2 separate regions of the Homo sapiens genome follow, and region 2 is linked to region 1. The links come from fine-mapping of genetic effects on gene expression. A gene starts in region 1. The other region holds a variant in brackets. All regions are shown on one strand. Distances are from middle to middle.

Region 1 (2,908 bases):
AGGGACTGCTTTTCTGTGTCAAAGTGACTTAGCTCCTCCAAGCAAAAGTGAGATGTTTCATTCTTACTTGATGTGATTTCAAACAGCAAAGTTTGTGATCATCTCTGACTTTAGACAACCAAAGTTTCCTACTAAGAAAGCAGTAGACACTCAAAGGATGGGAATTCTGCCACTTTACATCTGCAGTATGTCCAAGAGAAATATTTTTTCCTGGCTGGGTGCAGTGGCTCACGCCTGTAATCCAAGCACTTTGGGAGGCCGAGGCAGGAGGACTGCTTGTGCCCAGGAGTTTGAGACTAGACTGGACAACATAGGGTGATCCCATCTCTCTCTTTAAAAACAAAATTTTTTTTTTTGAGACGGAGTCTCACTCTTGTTGCCCACGCTGGATTGCAGTGGCCTCATCTTGGCTCACTGCAACCTCTGCCTTCTGGATTCATGCGATTCTCCTGCCTCAGCCCACGGAGTAGCTGGAATTACACGCATGAGCCACCACGCCCATCTAATTTTTGTATTTTTAGTAGACACGGGGTTTCACCATGTTGGCCAGGCTGGTCTCGAACTCCTGACCTCAGGTGATCTGCCCGCCTCGGCCTCCCAAAGTGCTGGGATTACAGGCGTGAGCCACCAAGCCTGGCAAAAAAAAAAAAAAAAAAAAAAAAAAAAAAAAATTTAAATTATCCAGGCATGGTGGCGCGTGCCTCTGGTCCCAGCTACTTGGTAGGGTGAGGTGGGAGGATCACTTGAGCCCGGGAGGTCGAGGTTGCAGTGAGCTGTGATCGTTCCACTGCATTCCAGCCTGGGCGACAAAGCGATCTTGTCTCAAAAAAAAAAAAAAAAAAAAGCAAAGAAATGTTTTTTCCTAGTAATTCTTCCACCAACTGGCTTATGTCAGCCAGATAAATAAGGAGACAGATCTTTTACAGTCGAAGCTAATTCTGACTTTCCCAAGTATGACGAAAGAGGTAAGGATGACATTTTTTAAACCTAAGCAACAAGAAGAATGAAGCACGCTACTAAGATAAGACAGACTGGAAGGTTTTGGGGAGACACGATCGCAAGCTCAGTTTCGGATGCTCTGAGTTTCAGATGGCTCAAATGCGTGGGGAGGGCAAGTGGGCATCTGCAGGCTCTCTAACAGCCTGCACCGACTTCACTTCTTACATCCCTTTCACTCTTCGGCTCGCTTCGCTCGCTATCTGTAGTCAATCGTCTACTCCTGTTTCCCACGCCTGCACCTTTGTATGTGCAATGGACACTGCCAGGAAGGCCATCTCCTCATGGTTTAACCCCACTTCCTAACACCCTCAAGCAAGACCAGAAGCCCCGCACAGCAGCACTAATGCTCGGGCCCCACCCCTCTCAGGGTCCCGCCTCCCTCAAGCCCCGCCCCGCGCTGCGCTCACTTGTAGAAGCTCACAGGGCGGTTGTCTGCACCCAGGCGGCCCGCAGTGTTGGAGCAGTTCGGCGCCCTGCAGTACTTGGGCATGGCTATCCAGCCCCCGCTGAGTTTTGCCGGGTCAGCGGCTGCACTTTGGTTCTCGCGGAGCGCCGCCTAACCCCGCCCCACCCGCGCTCGCCGCCTGCCTCACGTGACGTCCGTGGAGTCTCGTCACGTACCGGGGAGAGAGCTGAGAGCGCCTGCCTACTAGGCGCCCCTCCACAGTGCCACAGTCCCGCCCTCGTCACGTGACGAATGGGCCATAGCGAGTACTGTGCACCTGCGCAAAGCCGGCCCTTCGTCACCCCGACTTTCATCACGTGTTGGGGGGAAGGGCGGCGTCACGGCGTTTCTGAGCCTGCGCCAACCAAATCAACTGGCTAGTCAATCTCTTACGGCTCCACCCTACGCCTACATCCGGGCAACCGTTGGGGCGCACATAGTTCCTCTAGGTGGCGGCAAAAACCGAGGTGAGGCGGCCGTGGCCTTAGCCTCGTAAAAATTAAAACCTGTATGTTTCAGCGAATAATGAAAACGCAGTCTGGATGAAAGACCCCATGACGCTTAATCAGGCATCCAGTACACTGGCTGTGGCCCCGCCCCGCCAGGCACTCGCTCCGCCTCTTCGCCCCCATTGGTTCTAAGCGCCGCCCGGCATCCCTGCGATTGGCTAGGCCGGGCCCGTCGCGTCCAATAGGCGGTGGCGCCGGCTTTCCCGCGGCTGTTCGCTGTTCCAGTGGGTCGTGGCGGTGGCGGCAGCGGCGGTTAGGGGATGTAACGGTCGCCCGCCTCCGGCGTGACGATGGCGGCCGTAGGGTCCGGAGGCTATGCGCGGAACGATGCAGGGGAGAAGCTGCCCTCTGTCATGGCGGGAGTTCCGGCGCGGAGGGGCCAGTCCTCCCCGCCCCCCGCCCCACCAATCTGCCTACGGCGGCGGACGCGACTCTCGACGGCCTCCGAGGAGACGGTGCAGAACCGGGTGAGAAGCTGCTCGCCATGTCTACCCCAGTTCCAGGCTTCCTAGGTTTCCCCTAGTCCCGTCCTGAGAACTGTGGCCCCGACATCAGCCCCCGGCCAGTCCCCTCAGGTTGTTCCCTGCCATGCCTCGTCCCCTAACCCCCGCCCCTTTAGCCACGGCCCCTCCCACTTTCTCCTCGCTGCTTTCCCGGCTCCACCCTCAGCGTTGGAGCAATTCGGGGGTTCCTCGCTGGTTCCCACCCGTGGAAATGCATTTTGCTTCTGTAAATCACAGCCTAGTCCTGCTATATTTTAACCCCCGTTCTATCGCCTTTAGACGTCACGATCATAGCTCACTGCAGCCTCACTGCCCTGGCCCCCGCTGAGTCATTAAGGTCCCTTCGAGGGTTCGGTCCAGAGTGTTACCTGCCCCAACTCTTCCTCGCTTCTACCCCGCCTTCTCTCACCTTCTGCGATCTCTATCCTTTTTCCTCACCAAGGTGGGATTCT
Region 2 (2,908 bases), 530 kb before region 1:
CTGGACAACAGGGTGAGACCCTGCCTCAATTAAAAAAAAAATGCCAGATGCAGAAACTTACTTTTAAAGAACACTCATTTGGAGCCAGGAGAGGGTAGCTCTCACCTGTAATCCCAGCACTTTGGGAGGCCAAGGCAGGCAGATCACCTAAAGTCAGGAGTTCGAGACCAGCCTGGCCAACATGGTGAAACCTCATGGCTACTAAAAATACAAAAATTAGCCAGGCGTGGTGTGCGCCTGTAATCCCAGCTACTTAGGAGGCTGAGGCAGGAGAATCTCCTGAACCCGGGGTTCGGAGGTTGCAGTGAGCCAAGATCGCACCACTGCACTCCAGCCTGGGCAACAGAACAAGACTCTGTCAAAAAAAAAAAAAAAAAAACCCACTCATTTGGATGTAGCCCCCTCCCGCTTCCTGGGGGTCGCAAGGGCAGCATGCCACCTCACTGCTAGAGATGTTCAGCAGGGAAGTGCCCTTGAACTGGAGCCTGGCCATCACCACTGACTAGCAGGGTGGCCTCAGGCAACACGCTCCGTTCCGTGCACCTCTTCTTCAACATCTGTGAGGGCAATGATCATGGTACTTGCCTCCCGGATGGTTGTGGGGATGAAATGAATCATGCCTGTAAGTGCTTAGCACAGACCCTGTAAAAGATGCCCGGTGAGAGCCACACCCAAACTCCTCTCCCTGTTCTTCAACATCCTCAGAAACCGGCCCTTCCTCTCTGTGTTTCTCCCTAGCCTGGCTCCACCCATCTCAGGCAAAGCAGCCTGTGTCTTGCTCACACTCGTTCCATGGCCCTTCCCAACCTGCTCAAGTCAGTGGCTTCCCTTCTGCTCCTTGCCAGACATTCATGCCTGGCCTTGACATCACTGCTTGAACCTCTTTGTCTGGGGGGAAATGGATACGATATTTGTAATATGATTACAGATTGTCATAACCAACAAGAAAAACAAGATCAGCGCTATGAGAGAGAGTGACAGGGTGGCCGTAGCTCAGGTTGAGCGGTCAAGGTAGCTGAGATGCAAAGGGTAGGGAAGAGCCAGTATGAGGGGCCGAGGGGCATGGAGAGTGTTCCTAGTAGAGGGAACAGCACAGAAGACCTCCAGGCAGGAGAGAGCCAGGCGTCTTTTACCCTCAAAACCGACTCAAAGCTCTCCTTTTTCAGAAGCTTCCCAGGACTGACTCAGTGCCTATCAATTATCTTGTATCTCTTTGGTATTTTCAGGACCCCCATCCAAGCAAACCCAGCAAGAAAATGTGCCTAAAAAATAGTCAGTCAGCCGGGTGATGGCCAG[G/T]CGCGGTGGCTCACGCCTGTAATCCCAATACTTTGGGAGGCCAAGGCGGGCGAATCAACTGAAGTCAGGAGTTCAAGACCAGCCTGACCAACATGGTGAAACCCCGTCTCTACTGAAAATACAAAAATTAGCTGGGTGTGGTGGCGCGCACCTGTAAGGGAGGCTGAGGCAGGAGAATTGCTTGAGCCTGGGAAGCAGAGGTTGCAGTGAGCCGATATCACCCCACTGCAATCCAGCCTGGATGAAAAAGCAAGACTCTGTCTCAATATATATATATACATACACATATATACATATATATACACGTATATATATACACACACATATATGTATATTTTTTTAAATAAAAATAAAGTCAATGAAAGCTTTTACTTCAAGAAAGAAAGAGTCCCTTGAATGTTGCCTTTTCGAAAGCCGCCACTATAGGATTCTTTTAAGTAGGGCCTCCCCCAATACCTGTGAGATGATGTCCAGCACGGAGCAGACCCTCAATCAGTATCTGACATGAATGGAAGGTTCTATTTATATCAGTGCAGCAAGCAGCTGGGTGCTGTGGCTCACACCTGTATTCCTAGCACTTTGGGAGCCTGAGGCAGGAGGATTGCTTGAGCTCAGGATTTCAAGACCAGCCTGGGCAACATTATGAGACCCTCGTCTCTACAAAAAAAAATTACAAAATTAGCCAGGCATGGTGGTGTGTGCTTGTAGTCCCAGCTACTTGGGAGGCTGAGGTGGGAGGATTGCTTGAGCCCAGGAGATTGAGGCTGCAGTTAGCCATGACTGTGCCACTGCACTCCAGCCTGAACGATAGACCAAGACTCTGTCTCAAAAAATAAATAAGACAAAATGCAGCAAATATAATGTTTACAGTTTACTTTGAAATACATCAAAAATGTTTGATATGGGGCTAAATGGACAGATGTGTGACCAAGCAAGTATGGTAAAATCTAAGTGGTGAGAATTCTGGTGTTCACTATAAAATTCTTTCATCTTTTCATGATGCTTGAAATGTTTTCAAAATAAAATATCGCAGGGGGAGGGAAGGAGCATATGTAATGAAATGATGGTATTCCACAAAATAAGGGAAAATGCAGTGACTATAAAGTGAGGAACGTCCCATTTTTTGCACAAATGCAGGCCCCTCCCCTTGCCGGTCATTGAGCTCTTATTGATGCGTGGCTTTGTGTGTTTGCATTCACATTCTGTTTATAGGCCTTGCCTCCCAGGAAGGCTGTGAATTCCCCAAGGGCAAGAACACTGTCTATTATTTTCAGTCCCCCATTGATGGAATTTTGTAGCTGGAAGCAACAGTTGTCGAATCCCTGCCTCCCTTTATACAGGAGGAAATCGTGGCCCCTAGAGGGGAAGTAGGCGGCCTTCAGGCATCTTGCTCCCGATTGGAACGCAAGTCTCCCAGCACCCAGGCTAGTGCCTGGGAGTGTTACAGAGACTTCACCGGGAACCACGAGAAGTCAGGTGCTGGCGACAGACGGAGCCAGACCCAGGCCTGCTGCTTTCTCTGTGGGCGCCCTTGTCCCACTGAGCCGCAGCATCCTCATCCATACAACGGTGACGATAACAGGGCTTCTGCCTTTGGGTTGTGGGAGACTTA

What was found. PIP is the estimated chance that this variant, and not a neighbour inherited with it, causes the effect.
Region 2: its variant is fine-mapped to the expression of THAP8 in atrial appendage (GTEx, PIP 0.99).

What each region holds. Positions count from the first base shown.
Region 1 is chr19:36,052,729-36,055,636 of GRCh38, forward strand. It overlaps THAP8 (THAP domain containing 8), which reads right to left and starts at 1,557. Exons shown (of 4, transcript NM_152658.3): 1 at 1,407-1,557. The coding sequence starts at 1,489. WDR62 (WD repeat domain 62) reads left to right here and starts at 2,169. Exons shown (of 32, transcript NM_001083961.2): 1 at 2,169-2,420. The coding sequence starts at 2,244.
Region 2 is chr19:35,518,797-35,521,704 of GRCh38, forward strand. No RefSeq gene overlaps it. Among named protein-coding and RNA genes, the nearest start is that of DMKN, 6.6 kb to the left of the region's middle. The variant G/T (reference allele first, on the strand shown) is at 1,297.